Linked DNA regions of Homo sapiens: region 2 is linked to region 1. The links come from fine-mapping of genetic effects on gene expression. Tissue or cell type: tibial nerve. Region 1 holds a variant in brackets; the other region holds the start of a gene. All regions are shown on one strand. Distances are from middle to middle.

Region 1 (8,110 bases):
CTAAGATCATATAGCTATTAAGTGTTAGAACCTGGATTAAATCCCGGGTCTTCTCCCCTCTAATATTTTTTTCATTCTGCCATACAGCCTCTATTAGCGCAACGGGGCATTATCACTAATATCTACTAATTCTGGACACTGATGAGTCTGCAATTTTATTTTCCTCTAGTTGTTAGCTAATTAGTTGGCCTGTTACTGTTTGATGGATGCTTGCAGAGGACACAGAACTTCTGGGTCAATGACAAAGAATGTGTTACTCACAACTTATCAAGCAACTTGGGCATTAGTAGATATGCATTGGTTTCTGTATTAGTTGTCTTGTACTAATGTAACAAGCTACCACAGATTTAGCAGCTTAAAACAACACTCAATTATTATCTCTCAGTTCTGTAGATCAGAAGTCCAGAGGCTTGGCTGATAATCTGTTTAAAGTCTTACAAGGTCAAAATCAAGGTGTCAGTGGGCTTGGGGTCTTTTCTGCAAGCTCCAGGAAAGAATACATTTTGCAGCACATTCAAAAATTTGTTGGCAGAATTAAATTCAAATAACGTGGTTGTTGGACTAAGGACCTTGATTGTTGGCTGCTGTTGGGCAGGGCTTATTTTCAGTTTTGTGAGGTCACCTGTATTCACGGGCCTGTGGGATCTTCCATTTTCAAGATCAATGGCACATCAAATACTTTTTCTCTGAATCTCTTTGACTTCCTCTCCTCCTGTACTTCCTTGACTTTCTCTTTGGCCTGTTCTTATAAGGCCTGATATGAACATGTTATGTTATGCTTAAACTGATAATCCAGCATAATTCCTCTATTTTAAGGTCAACTATTTGGTAACCTTAATTACCTCTGCAAATGCCTTGTGTTGTGTAAGGCAATGTATTCAGAAGCATGGTATCTCATTATACTCACTCTCTCAGGGATTAGGTATGGAATCTTCTTGGAGTTATAATTCTGCCTACCAAAGTTTTTTTTTATTTGTACGTCCCATGATAAAGCATGGTCCAGATGAATGCTCACATGCAGCAGTTTGGCATCCCAGTAGAGAAATTCTAACCTTGGAGAATCTACTACTTTTATAGCAAGCAGTAAGAAAGCCTGCTATTTGTTTAGTAGAAAGATATTTTATCTCTCAGCGTTACCAACTGCATAAACAAAATCCTCAGGAATTACTAGTGTAAAGAACAGTCAGGGCCTCACCTTCTTGACACAGTTAAGTTAGTAAGACTTGCAGGAAGCAAGAGACTCATAAAATACTGTCTCTCCCAACATACTCCCAAAGTTCTTGAAAAACTCCAAATGAGAATTTGACCTTTAATCTCTAAATACACAGATTATTCTTAACCAAGTAAAAATATTTCTTCCAGATCAGGCTTTCACTTACCTTGAAAAGTACATTCCCAGAATGTAGTAAAATTCCCAGAAGTGTGGGTGTGGAAGGCAAAAATGAAGCCAACTGTTAAATTCTATGCACTATTGGTGGATAAGGGGTAGTCTCTACCATTTAGATAAGTGACAGCAACAGGCAAGAATGAAGCCAACCTGTGAGGAAGCTTAGGATGGCAGATTAAAAAGATGTAATGGAAATACCCTTGATATATTATCATGGGAGTTGCAGTTTGCACCTTACCTCTATTGACATGTGACTTTAGACTAATCACTTAATTTCTCTGAGCTTTTGTTTTCATGTCTATTGAAAACCTAGGTAATAATGTCCTGAAACTCTTGGGGTGTCGCATTTCTAGTTGGAAGCCTCGGTGGCCCATGGCACCTTTGCCCATTTTTATTTGGGCCTGCTGGGCTCATTCCACCCACTCAGCCTGGCAGACTGCACTCACCTCATGCTACTGGCCTGGATCCCATGACTGCCAAGGGCAAGCCAGGTGCAGAGAGGCAAGGGGCATGTGAGCAAGTGAGTGTGGGGTCTATGCAGTGTGCCACACTGGCTGCTGTGGTGGGGTGGGCAGCTACAGGCACCACCACAGGTGCTGGCTCCATGAAAGTCTTCAGCTGGATCAGATGCATTGTGGGTGGCTTCTGCTGTAGGCACCTGTCTCTGGATGAGAGGAACATAGTGGTGCCTGGAAGCTTGGAGACACCAGAAACCACAGAGCCCCAAAGAGGGTCTTACAGCCCTGGCTCAGGGAGCCCCTAGGTCTGGGCTCCCAGAATGGCCTCAGCTCTTCTCTCCTTGTTGCCCACAACATGGTGAGCGGGGGAGGGCAGTGTTTCAGCCCTGCTTGTGTTACAGCTTTTTCAGTCTCACCATTCAGCAGGTGCCGAGTTCCTTTCCTGCATCCAGGAAGAATGAGGTATGCTGACAACCAGAGGGTGATCAAGGTGAAGAGGTGCTTGACTGAGTGACAGAACAGCTCTCAGGAGACCCAAAATGGGTAGCTCCTATCCGCAGGCAGGTCATCGCAACGTCTCTGCTGCTCTCAGCAGAGAGGAGACCCAGAGCAGGTAACTCATATTTGCAGGCAGGTCATGCAACATCTCTGCAGCTCTCAGTAGTGGACAGGAGACCCAGAGTGGGTAGCTCCTATCTGCAGGCAGGTCATTCCAACATCTCCGCAGTCCTTAGGGGAGAGGAAACCCAGAGCAGGTAGCTCCTATCCACAGGCAGGTCATCTTGATGTCTCTGTGGGTCTAGCTGAGTCCGGGGTTTTTATGGACTTCAGAAGGGAGATGTGCATGCTGATTGGTCCATGGACGGCCATCATTGGGCCTAGAAAAAGCGCCATAAGTTCTTGCTCTGGGCCAGGAACTCCACCCAGAACTGACAGCCTGGACCCCATGCTTCAGGCTGTCCCTAGCTTGAAGGTGTGCTTCACCAGGGATCTACCCGTTTCCACCTAGGAGTCAGTCTGCCTCCTGCTGCCATCAACCTGCTGTCCACAGTGCCCAGGCTGTTCATGCCAAAGGGTGCTTGCAGACCTGTGCCAAGCACCCTCAGTCCCCCTCAGCCTCCCTCCCATGATCATCAATGTCTAAAGACCAGAGGGGGGCCAAGTTGGCAGGGGTTTGGTGTGTCAGTGCTGCCTCAAGAATGTGCACACCTGCCAGGTCACAACAGTACCTGGCTCAGCCTCAGCTTTGTTCCAAAATCAGAGTCGGTGCTAGGAGTTCAGAGAGGCCAGGCAGCAGGAGCAGACACCTTCAAGCCTGCAGGGGCAAAGGGTGTTCCCAGGCCCTTGAGAGTGCAGGAATGTCCAGGTCCACAGCTGTGGCTGGGCAGCTGCAACTGCACCTGGGAGGGTGGGGCTCCTGCCCTGCCAACTCAGAAAAGGACAGGGCTCCCACCTGTTCCTGGCCCCTGCCAGCTCCGTGGAGCATGTGGTCCCTACTGCACCTCCCCTGCTGCAGCCAGAGTCTTCACAGTGGCCCCTCCAGATGGGCCATTGCTGCCATCAGTAATATCTATCTTACAGATTTATTGTGAGAAGTAAATAAGATAATTCCTATAAAGCTAGTAGCATTATATTTGCTATAGAGTACAAATCCCACAGGTTTCTCCATCATTCCCGCTTCTACTTAACTCAAAATATATCCAAATAAAAAGCAATCTGGCATGAACTTACCTTGATATGATAGAACATTGCAGCTTCCATCCCGCACTCCAAAATGTCCACTAAATAGTAATAGGTACCATTATTAAATACCACCACTGTGCCATAGGCTTCCTCTGAAAATCAGCTTCAAATTTAGCTTGACTGTGTACATGATAAATAAATGCGTGATCCCGAATAAGGATTATGTTTACATAAGTGTGTGGCTCCCCTAACTAAAAACATTTTACTTCTGTTTACTCCTGAGTTTAGAGAGATTTCAAAAGATAAACTTCGAGTATTATATAATCAATGTTTAATTCATGTAGAAGTATATATTAAGAATAGAATAACAAGAAGCCCCAAACTTTGGAAAATGTGAGCCATTCTCTAAGATAAATATTCACCTGCAAGAGACGTTGAGAAAATTCTGCTGGTTCCACTGCCCTGGGACAGTTTCCCAGACCCCTTAGGGCATAAGGCCCTGAGGACCACCTACTCAAGTGTATTCCTTTCCTTCATATCACAAAGGCTTCAGTACAATTTTGTGGTGTTATTGCTTGGCTCTGTAATCATTATTGTGGTTAGATTTTTTTAAAAAGCTCATTTTCATGCTTTCCAGCACAGGATCAGCTTTGCAGTGGAAAATACATTTATAAAAATATGTTGTTGCGTGTGAGTAACTTGCATTTTGGGCTTGTCCCCAGACCACC[T/C]GGAACACCTTCGTGAATTCCAGTGATCCAAAAGCTACATTGTGAAAGATGGCAGGATGCTTCATTAGGTTACTACTGATGGTGCTTTGAGATCCCCAAATAAATATCAGAAGCCAGTTTATTGTTCTCTTTTAAAGTCATTCTCCTTTTGCTGTAAAGTGTACTTTTTTCTACACATTAGTGTCTTGGTTAGTATTTGAAATGTGCAGCATATAAAATAATAAAAATATTGCCCTTTACTTTAGAAAGAGGTAAATATTTTAAATGACTGTAACATTCTGAGAAAGCTGCTGCCTGTTTTTCTAACCCGGACACTGGAGTCTGCAAAGTACAGACAACACCCTCAGAGCCTACCTCAGGGTTTATAGAAGGCCTAGTGTGTGGTCAAGACCTCTAGGCTTGCAGTTAAAAGTTCATACCCAGGATGGACTTGATGGTATTGATGGCTTTTTATAATTAAGTTGAAACTCTCCTCTGGCAAATATCCCAAGCCCAAGCAGTCAGTCCCTTGAGCTACCTACCACCAGTGTAGGGACATGAAGCCCCACAAATTTTTCCAATGCTCAAGAATTCTGATTTTTAAATAAATATTAATGCTCCAATTTCTGTGCTTTGGAAAGAGTAAAAGAAAAGGCTTAGGAATCTCGCCCACAAATTTCATGGTTAGAGAGAACGAACTACCTGACCAGCAGACAGAAGAGGCCAAAGGCACACCAAACCACACAGTGGAAGCTCAGTTTGCCAAAACTGTGGCTGAGTTGAAGTGGATTTGGCCCTAGATATATTAATTCCAGACACCCGGTGGTCTGAAACAGAAAAGGCAAAAGTAAGCAAACTGATTGGTAAAAGGGTAAGCTTTTTTCCCTCCTCATCCCTTTTTTGTAAGAGTTCCTCTCACATGTGCCTCTCATTTTCCCACGCAACAGTTGAAAGGAAGCAAAGTGTGGCAGGTGGCAGCACAGCTTTGAAGTCCTGCTGCCAGGGCCAGAGGTCTGACAAATGTTCCATGTGTTCTCTAGCCACATGAGGCGGACCCTTGTACTTCTAAACGAGAGGGCTGATCTCCTTCCACTTTCCCTTTTTTCTAAAGTGAGTTCATGTGCTTTTGATAGCAAGCCTTTAAGTTGGCATAAACTGACTGGCAACTTGTAGAAAATAAATTCGAGGTACCTGCTGCATCAGACCTTGGCTCTTGCCCTTTGGAAGTATTAAACTTGACTTGGTTTTGTCTTTATCGGTTCTTGTTGTTGTTGCTGTTAATACAAGGGAAAAACATAGATAAGAATACAAGCTTTAAATCAAATGTCGGGTATCCATTGTACTTTCATCACTTGTTGCCTTGAATTTTTAAAAAAATTAGTTTGATTTTTTTTTTTTTTTTTTCCATAGATTTGATTTTGCTTTTAGGTAATTGCTTCTGATACAAAAGAGCTCCCTCTAGCCACGAGCTTAAATATTACACATCCTGCTGAGCAGAAGAAACTTCCCTTAAATATGGGCTTGTTTATGTAGCAGTAAAACTATATTCTGAATATCAGTGATAAGGTTTCTGCAGAGCTATTTAACTTCCAATTTATTGAATTGGACCTTTTACTTTTTAAAATATTATTGACTGGAAAATATTTCTGCAGAAGGCAAATAATGAGCGATAGCTACTGGTGGTAGGAATTAGCTTTCAAAGTAAGAAACTGGAGCTGTTTTATATCATTTAGAGTGAAATTCCTCTTCGTACTCCTTAAAAATACTTAGGGAAAAGCTAATGTCCAAAAATAGTTTCGTTTTAAGCTTCGATCACATAAAAGGAAAGCATAAGTCTTGCTGTAGAAGGTGAAGTCCTTTGTGTGAGTTTATATAAAAAGGTAAACGTAAAAATAGAAAATATTTATACGTAATGTTATTTTAAATTAACTTGTGCTGCTGTTTTACCAAGGGCTACACTCCATTTCTTCATGTAATTGTGCTTGTATATTTATGCTTTTAGTGTGTTCACCTGTAAGTGGTAAAAGAAAACTGACGTATACGAGCAACACAAATCTAAATTATTTCCAAATATGTTTTTACTGTGATAAACCAGTAGGCTTCTTGAAAATTCCCAGTCAAATGGCAAGTTCTATGAGGGTAGGCTCCTTTCACTCAAACCTGCCACCATCTTCCACACAACTGGGTGATGAATGTCTCATTATCTTTGCCAAGTGGTCTTCTAAGAATTGGATAGAAAAAGCAAAACGAAAACAGAAAACTTGAGAGGCATGGCATGTGGAATAAAATAAAATTTTGATAGAATGGGATATTCATAAATATAAAAAAAATTATGGCAGATGTGAAAGTTAATTTTAAAGTTATTAAAATAAAAGGAGTTATCTTGGAATAGATTTGTCATAACCATTTTTAGCGTATAATAGCAATTAGAGCCTTGGTAGCAAAGGCTTTATTTTTTTTTTTTAAGACGAGGATGTGGATGTACATAGCTCAAACTTTCTTTTCTTATTTTTTTTAGTATACTTTAAGTTCTAGGGTACATGTGCACAACGTGCAGGTTAGTTACATATGTATACATGTGCCATGTTGGTGTGCTGCAGCCATTAACTCATCATTTACATTAGTTGTATCTCCTAATGCTATCCCTCCCCCCTCCCCCCACCCCACGACAGGCCCCAGTGTGTGATGTTCCCCACCCTCTGTCCAAGTGTTCTCATTGTTCAGTTCCCATCTATGACTGAGAACATGTGGTGTTTGGTTTTCTGTCCTTGTGATAGTTTGCTGAGAATGCTGGTTTCCAGCTTCATCCATGTCCCTACAAAGGACATGAACTCATCCTTTTCTGTGGCTGCATAGTATTCCATGGTGTATATATGCCACATTTTCTTAATCCAGTCTATCATTGATATACATTTAGGTTGGTTCCAAGTCTTTCCTATTGTGAATAGTGCCTCAATAAACATACGTGTGTATGTGTATTCATAGCATCATGATTTATAATCCTTTGGGTATATACCCAGTAATGGGATGGCTGGGTCAAATGGTATTTCTAGTTCTAGATCCTTGAGGAAATCGCCACACTGTCTTCCACAATGGTTGAACTAGTTTACAGTCCCACCAACAGTGTAAAAGTGTTCCTATTTCTCCACATCCTCTCCAGCACCTGTTGTATCCTGACTCTTTAATGATCGCCATTCTAACTGGTGTGAGATGGTATCTCATTGTGATTTTGATTTGCATTTCTCTGGCCAGTGATGATGAGGATTTTTTCATGTGTCTGTTGCTGCATAAATGTCTTCCTTTGAGAAGTGTCTGTTCATATCCTTTGCCCACTTTTTGATGGGGTTGTTTGATTTTTTTTTTTTGTAAATTTGTTTAAGTTCTTTGTAGATTCTGGATATTAGCCCTTTGTCAGATGGGTAGATTGTAAAATTCTTCTCCCATTCTGTGGGCTGCCTGATCACTCCGATGGTAGTTTCTTTTGCTGTGCAGAAGCTCTTTAGTTGAATTAGATTCCATTTGTCAATTTTGGACATAGCTCAAACTTTCAATTGTTCTGAGAGAATTCAAACGGCACTAAGTAACTCCAGATTCTCAGTTATCCGACTGGAAATACCTAGAACTTCGTCTTCACCCAGCGTTTTCTAGTACTTTACCATTTTTATTTTGCATGCACATACCTTGCATGTGCGAGTGATTATGGCATTCCCTGAAGCACAGTAGTTTTGAGATGATAAACATCTTTCTCCTTTCACCTCTCTGAGCAAAGATTTTTATTTCTGCATCAGTTTCTCTGTGAATGGCAGTTACACCATTTCTTGGCAAGATGGCCAACATTTCGCGGTTACTTTATACTCTCAAGATCAGCGTGACTG
Region 2 (8,110 bases), 370 kb before region 1:
CCAAAGTGTTTCCCCTTATGAAAAAAGTAGAAAAAGCAAAACACATTAAAAAAAGAAAGAAATAAAAGAAAGGCAAATGGAGAGCTACCTTTCTTTGACACATCTAGTTCTTATATCCAGAGTTAAGATAACAATTACCTTCTCAGCAGTCATGGCCAGCTCCATCCTGGTGTACCTTAAGAAATCTGAAATATCAAATAGTCAGACCAAGCTAGTGAACAAGGAGACTCCCCATGAATAATTTAGAAAATGGAGGTGGTTGGATGATACATACAAAAAAGAATTACCAACCTAATGCTTTCCCTCATCCTCCTAGGGCACCCTCCTTACATTTCTAACCTGCCTTACACACAACACACACACACCCCCAACAAATACACCAACACATAATCGCCTTCCCTTTCTGTTATTTGCTAAAGGACTATCAAAATAAAAAAATAATAATACTTCTCCAAGCTTTCACTAACCTTTTAATACAAGTCAATGCTGCAGACTCCTTATTGTAAAATATAGTCTGAAATATTAACAATAAATTCATAATATTCTTATGTCAGCATTCTATGGTGCTGTGTGAAGAAGAAAACAAAAACCTTCAGGCAATAAAATAACTTTGACCTGAGCTAAGCAAAAACGATCTGTTTGGATACATACACTTATTAGTCATTGTTTGAAACAGGCACCAAAATGATTTTCCAGTTTGAAAGCTTCCCCAGTTACACTTGGATGCAGTAAATCGGATGTAAAAGCTAAGAACTGATACAAAATCACTATTTCTAATAATGTTAATTATAAAAGCCAGTATGTTCCTGGCCCACAAATAATCAGAATGAAATAAAAAATCAAACACCCCCGTTTGCCCATTATTGTTTTACTTAACTTCAGATTGTGTGTGTGTGTATGTATGATCTCACCAGGGAAAAATTCTGTGTAATTCTGGATAAAATATAACGCTAATGAACTGACTAGTAACTGCATAGCTGTAGTATTTAAAACTGTGATTATTCCAACTGTGATTATATCCAGTTACCAAGGATACTGAAAGTTCAGGATCTTCATTTTTGTATATTATTCCACAGCCTTATATTCTTTACACATAAAAAAAGAATGATGCTTCCCAAATAGCGTCAATATAGCGATATATTAACTTTTCTTTTTAGCAAACATGACACTAAACGTCATATTCATTCATGAGAGAAGAGTTAAGCAAATTACAAATGGAATTTTCTCTTTTCTGCTGATTTACACTTTATTTTCTATGCATTTCTGGTCATTTCTATATGTGTATAGATAATTTTCATAACACTATATATGTTTTCACTGAAAAGAACCTGTTATTTAGGAATCTTCACAAAGAGTGAAGAGCATGACAAAAAGTACATAATAAGAGAATAGTGCAGGTTTTATACTCCTTATTTGCATTTAACTGTTTTAACAACTATCACCTCAAAATAAAAAGGAGGTGAATAGCAAATTTGTTAAGTTTTTGCTGTTTGGAGACAGTAAGAGATGAAGAGATGCTACTAAGCCCTCTGAATACCAAACTGGAATAATAATAAAGCTGTCTTTTAAAATAACATGCTTGTGCCTGTCAGTAGCTGCTTTATTTGAGTTTTTCATTGCTTTGTTTATATTAGTGCCCCCTCCCTCCTGGGTGCCTCTAGAATTAAACAAGCAGGTATTTACCACCAACTTAATCTTTAGTTTTAAAAATATAGACCAAACTCTAAGGTTCTCTAAATTTTTTATATTTATTTATTGCAGAAAAATATACAAAGATATTTACAAAACAATCATAAAAATATGAATGCATTTAGACACCGGATCTATTTGCATTTTACCATGGGTCCTCAATAAATAAATAGAATGTTGTTTTTTGTATTTTAAGTTTTTTTTTGTTTTTCCCCTCAGAGGAAGGATGAAAAAAAGAATTAACTGACTATGGTTTTGCAGGCCAGTTTGATCCCAGTATTTTTATTTCTAAAGGTGTTCTTATAGTTCCTCTGATTGTTACCATTTTAAAATAGAGAAAGTCCATAGTGATGCCTTTCCTTTCAGTGGCTGATTGGCACGACCTCTTGAGAATGCATGCATGAAAAAAATAAAAATAAAAACATTCTTCGTCAAAAAAAAAAAAAAAAAAAACACAAACAACTGTTCAGACTTCTATCAGAATGCAGAGGTGTGAGGATGGTGCCGCTGCCCGTCTGGGAATCACTGTCCACGGGCCTGTCTCGCTTTCTCTTTTAAAAGTGCGCCCCACGCCCTGTTTCTTTGAATTTGGATTTTGCTCTTCTAATTTCCAAGAAAATCTTTGGCATATATTTTTATTTTTAGTTATCCAGCTCCAGAGTCTCTAGACTGTCCATTTTCTCCTTCTCTGGAAACAATGACATCTGCAAAAACCCAGAGGGGGGGGGGGGAGTCGGTTATTGTTTAGGTCTCTGCGGCTGTTTTCTAAGACTAGTGAGCACTGTTCTTATCACCACCACTGAGAAATTAAGCTGAACAACCTGGAAGGATTTCAGCCCAAGGGCAAGAGGAAGTGGGTGGGTGGAAAGGAGGAGGAGGTGGAATTTGTTTTAAAACATTTGTTTTAAGGAGAACAAAAATTGAAAGCCGAAAGAAAGGGTGGCGCTGACAAAACGGTCCTTACCCGTGACCCTGGGTGTCTCTGTCTCCCCTCCTGTCACGCACACTCACGCGCACACACACCCCTCACCAGGGCGCATCCCCCTGGAGACTGCTCTCCCTAGCGGGGTCAGACCGGCCTTCCGGGGACGCTGGGGGCGCGAGGCAACGGTGCCAAGTGAGGTGGGAAGGCTGAGCGGAGAGTGGGAGAGGGGAGGAAATCGAGGTGGACTGGGAACCGCGGCCTGGCCGGCCTGCCGTCTGCCACCTGAGAGGCGAAGGGGTGCAGCGGCGCGGTCCTTACCTAGGTCTCCGGCCCTGCTGAGGGGGTGGGGGGCTCCGCCTGCTAGTGGGACGCGGACATGGACCAGGCCCCCTCCATCCTCCAGACCGAGAAGGCGTAGCTGAGCCGCTCGTGAGCCACATAGCTGCAGCTTGCCATCTTGGAGTCCAGCTCGTCGCTCTGGAGGACCTGGTAGAGGAAGTCGATGTACCTGGCCGCCAGCTTGAGGGTCTGAATCTTGCTCAGCTTGTCCGAGGGCAGCGTGGGGATGATCTTCCGCAGCGCGGCGAACGCCTCGTTCAGCGACTGGGTGCGCTGGCGCTCCCGCACGTTGGCCATGACCCGCTGCGTCTGCAGCTCCTCGTAAGACTGCGGACTCCCGCCGCCGCTGCTGCTGCCGCCGCCGCCGCCCGCGCCGCCGCCGCCGCCACAGCCCGCAGACTTCTTGCCGCGCTTGCCCTGGGCCGGGCTGCCCGGCTCGTCGCCGCCTCCGACGCCCCCACCCGCGGCTCCGCCGGGCCCCGCGCCGCCGCCCGCGCTGCGCCTGCTGCTGCGCCGCTTGCGTCCCCCGCGCTTGCCGCTCGGCGGCTGCTGCCGGTCTGGCTCTTCCTCGCTGTTGCTCAGGCTGTCGTCGGCCGGCGAGACTGGCGAGCTGGACACGTCCTGCATCATCTCTCGAGCGGCGACGCGTGGCCTCGCGGGCCCGGGGCAGAGGAGAAGAGCGGGGCGCCTCAGCCCGCCAGCTTCCCCCGCGCGCGGCGCCGGCCCGGGCGATGCGGCCCGCGGAGGAGAGAGCAGGAGGACGGACGGGAGGGACCTCCGCGGGGAGGGCGCGCGGGGGAGGCGGGGAGGGAGGCGGGAGGGGGAGGGGACGGTGTGGATGGCCCCGAGGTCCAAAAAGAAAGCGCCCAACGGCTGGACGCACACCCCGCCAGGCCTCCTGGAAACGGTGCCGGTGCTGCAGAGCCCGCGAGGTGTCTGGGAGTTGGGCGAGAGCTGCAGACTTGGAGGCTCTTATACCTCCGTGCAGGCGGAAAGTTTGGGGGCAGCAGTGTCATTGGCCTGACGTGAGGAGGAGGGACTTTTCGAAGTTTTATAGGAAAGTTTCCGCTTTCCAGTCCCCCTCCCCCGTCCCACCTCCCTTCCTCGGGGTCTAACAATTCGTCCTCCCAAACCATTCAAAAACGACCTGGCCCGGGCGGCCGGCCCCTCCACCCGCCTCCTAGCCGCCCTCCCCCTTCCCTCCCCGTCGCCTTCCTCCGGCGGGCGCGGGGCGATTTCCTTCCCCGCCGGAGCGTGCGGGCAGCGCCCCCGAACCCTAGCGCAGCCCAGGAAGCGGTCGGAGGAGACTGTCCTGGCCGCGGTGGCAGCCCCATCCGGAGTGGCTGTGACAGCAGCAATGGCAACAGCTTCTACACAGTGGGTGATGTCTCATCTCGCCCAAGAGCCCTCTAGGTCCGTGGGGCCGATTTGGGATTGCTGGGGCTGGGGGGGTGGTGTGGCGCGGGGTGGGGGGGCATGCCAAGAAAAGTGTCAACCGCGGAGCCCACCCAATGGTCAGGTAGACGAACCCCTTGGAGTTCCAAAGGCCAAACCGCGGCGGCCCAGCCCGGAGGTCCTGGGCGTTTCTGAAGACGTGGCCGCGCCGCGGGGGCTGAGGATTTGCGTCCCGGCCTGCTCTCTCGCCCTTCTGGGCCCTCCTTTCCCCTCTACAACGACCCAGTCTGACGCTCCCCAACATCCAAAGGACTACGCCTCGGAAGGTGCTCGAAAGAGGCAGAAGTTCACTCTTCGGTGGAAGGAAACCCAGTCCATGGGAAAGGCAGCAGAGCCAGAGGGGGGCAGCGCAGCGCCTTTGCTGCGGCCCTAACAGCTGGCAATGCCAACCCAAGGGAGAGACCCTGTGGCCATTTCATCCCCACCCCCAAATTAGGCTCCGCATTGTGACCTTGAAAGGCCAGCTTGTAAGAGAGTGAAGTGGGAATTTGATAGCGCCTAGACATAGGGGCTGCCCGCTCTGAGACCCCCCCCGCCCCAGCCCCCACTATCTAGGGCATCCAGTGGACAATTAGGCTTCGTGAGCCCCAATTCCAAATGCTTGGATACGCTAACATTTTAAGCATTTCTGTCTGTAAGTTAAAACGAAGAGCCCCAAAGAGGGTGTTAATGTAGATCCTGGCAAACTGGAAGCAGCAAAGTTGGTGAACCAGAAAGGAAGTCGCCTTGGATAAGAAGCCCATCTTTTGCAATGCCATACTTGTTTCCTTTTTGAAATGAATTGAGGTAAAATAACCGTTTCAGGTCCATCCCTTACATGGCAAAGTAAAAAGCTGGAGTCAGTACACAGTGTTGGGGTGGGGGCAGCGTTTGGGGGCGACGAGTTTTGTGCACCGCGCTGGAGTACCCTGCACATAAGGTCCGCTCATGGGCTTCTCAGTACGGACTCGCCGGCGGGAACAATTAATTGAGCAAAGCGCCCCTTTCTGGGCTGGAGCAAGGTTCGCGGCTGCAGATATCTCAAGCTGAAGGCAAGAGCCCAGGCGAGGCGCAGGCAGGCCACGTGGCTGTTCCCTGCTGAGACTCGCAGCTTTGGTCTTGGAAACCTCAGGGTGTGGAGCTGCTTGGGCCGACTGAAGGGTTCAGCTTTTTGGGAGAAGTGAGGGCGAGTGTTATTTCTCCAGCGAGGTGTAAACAAGACTGTGCTTTCATGGGAGGGACAAATTGCAGAGTTGATCCCTTACCATTTTTACAGAAATACTCAGAAAGTGACTACAGCTTGTCAACTGGCCTGTTTAGTGAGCCGCTGCCTTACTGTAAAATTGTCTGAAAATCAGATTCGACTTGACCTCCACTTAATTTCAGTAGCACTCTAGCAGTTCTCAAAACAGTCACCCCTGCACCCTTGCGTTTGCATCTTCCGCTACAGGATTTTATCTCTTGGAAGCGCTTAGAGAATGCGGCAGAAATTCTGCCCCACTCTCCACCAAGTGTTCTTTTTGTAAATCTGAATTTACAGTATTCTGCAATTCTTATTTAGAACGTGGCTGCAGAAATCTCGAAACCTTTTCCACTTCAGCTATTTTTTTAAAGATAAATCTTATTTTTGTTTTGTTCTTTTTTTCTCTTTTCTCAAAAATAAATAAAGAGATCGAATGATTGGACTCTTTCCTTTGTGGCCACGGATAAGTAAGACAGGAAAGTGTGGGTAAAGTGTAAAGGAAATCTTACCTGACCAAGGGGAATTTGGGAAGGGGAGGGGAGCGGACAAGCTAGAGGAGAAACCAAGTCCACAGCAGCGCAGCAGCCAGGGGTCATTAGCCAGTCCATCTTGCAAAGTCATCAGTCTCAAAGACTGGTTCTTAAACAAGTGAGCCCAGCCCTTTTCCCGGCACTAAACTTCTAGCTGATGAAGAGCTCCTGGCCATTGGGTACAGGGATCCCCGCAAGGCTCAGGCGACGCTCTGATGCCAGAATACTGAGAGGGGAATTCAAAATGAACACCTAACCAGAACCATCCTGCCCATGGACTCTTTCAGCCACAGTCACAATTGATGACTAGTTCTAAGAAGAAATGGCTCTTGAACTGTTCCGGGGAGTGGAGGATGAGACGACTTTTGAGTTCTTAAGTGGGGCTTGAATGTTACTTTTGGAGCAAAAGTAGTCCAGGAGGTACCTCTCAAAAAATGGCTGGAGCTAGATACTCCCTGCTTTGCAAACTGCAACACGCCCTGGCTGACGAGTCCAGTCTGCTCATATACAGCTCTTTCTTATCTAACATTTTACCTAACAATTTTCTTTTCCACATTTGCAAGGATGGCTCCCTTTTTACTTGTTGACAGGTCAGGTATAATTCTGGATTCTCTTATATATGCAACAATAATTGCAACTTCTGCAATGTTTAGTTTAAATTTGAAAGCTTCTTTCTAAAATCCCAATCTTGAGATCATGAAAACAATCTTAGAAATTTTCTTTTGAGGCTGAAGTTAGCCTAACTGGAAGTATGTCAGTGGGGACTACCTTCTTTGGGAATGCTAGATTAACTGGAATTCAGTCATTTTGCCTCCTTCTAAAGTAAAGTCCTCCCCAAAAAAATTTAACTGAAAAAAAAAATTTCTTTTGTACTTGGATAGTTCAAAACGATCTTTGTTTTCAAACTGCAAACTTGGCATGTTTGCAATCCTGCCTGAGGAATGTGTGCTGTGTTAAAAATTGAAACAAAAAATACTGTTAAAAGTAACAGAGTTAGAAATCTCACATTGAACATATACAATAAGTATTAAGTATCCTGGCAGTTTGAATATGCTGTGACATTCTCTTAGCAACAACCAATTATAAATACTTTTAGATACGGAAAAGAAACACACACTATAGAATGGTTAGCCAACTGGTAAATTCTGGAGTTTGGGCTTGCATAAAAGGTGAGTACCTCAATCTGTTCCTACTCTTCTTTCTCCTCAGACCTTAGATGGCCTATCACCTGTTTGTTGGCTCCGAGTTCTGAGAAATAATTTATCTGAATTGCATAAATAGTGCACAGGAGCATTCGCACGGAAGGGAGTGAAAATTAGAAAGGCTGCAATTGAGTGAATATCAGATGAGGTTGTATATCTTAGATTTCATCTTGCTTTGAACACTCCAGAGGGACTGCTGTTTAAATGAGAGAATTTTAGTAAGGTGGAATATAAAGTCATGTATGTCAACACAATAACTGTGTAAAAGCTTATTCTTCTTTCATGACCCTGGTAGCCTTAATGATGTTTGAACACCTTTCCCTATATAAAAACTCATTCTCTTTCTCTTTAAATGATGATTTGATTCATAAACTCAACTGATTCTACATTTTTCTATCTGAATATCTTTAAAAGTAAAAAAAACAAACTAAAGTTATAAAATGTGAAGTTTTCAATCCAGAAATAAAACGAAAAAGTAAAAAACACAATAAATTAGGGTGCGAACAGTACCGCAAGTGAAATTTTCAAATAAATGTTAATCTTTAAAATAGCTGACATTCTGAACTCAGCTTAAGGATGGGATGAGGAGACATAGGTCTAACCTGTAGAAAGTGCAGGATCAGAATATGGAAAAGTATGGAGTCTTGAAGAGCATTTTTTTTTTTCATTTTTTTTTTCAGGGGTTGTGCAGGCTGGAGAGTTGGTGTCTTAGCTGCCCATTAACCTTGTTGGAAAACACACTCACTTC

Evidence for each region. PIP is the estimated chance that this variant, and not a neighbour inherited with it, causes the effect.
Region 2: it holds the start of TWIST1, and the variant in region 1 is fine-mapped to the expression of TWIST1 in tibial nerve (GTEx, PIP above 0.99).

The regions. Positions count from the first base shown.
Region 1 is chr7:19,486,340-19,494,449 of GRCh38, forward strand. No RefSeq gene overlaps it. Among named protein-coding and RNA genes, the nearest start is that of MIR3146, 220 kb to the right of the region's middle. The variant T/C (reference allele first, on the strand shown) is at 4,257.
Region 2 is chr7:19,113,739-19,121,848 of GRCh38, forward strand. It overlaps TWIST1 (twist family bHLH transcription factor 1), which reads right to left and starts at 3,898. Exons shown (of 2, transcript NM_000474.4): 1 at 2,933-3,898; 2 at 1,730-2,393. The coding sequence starts at 3,583. The coding sequence ends at 2,975. RefSeq lists enhancers at 2,905-3,164, 3,188-3,971, 5,045-5,908.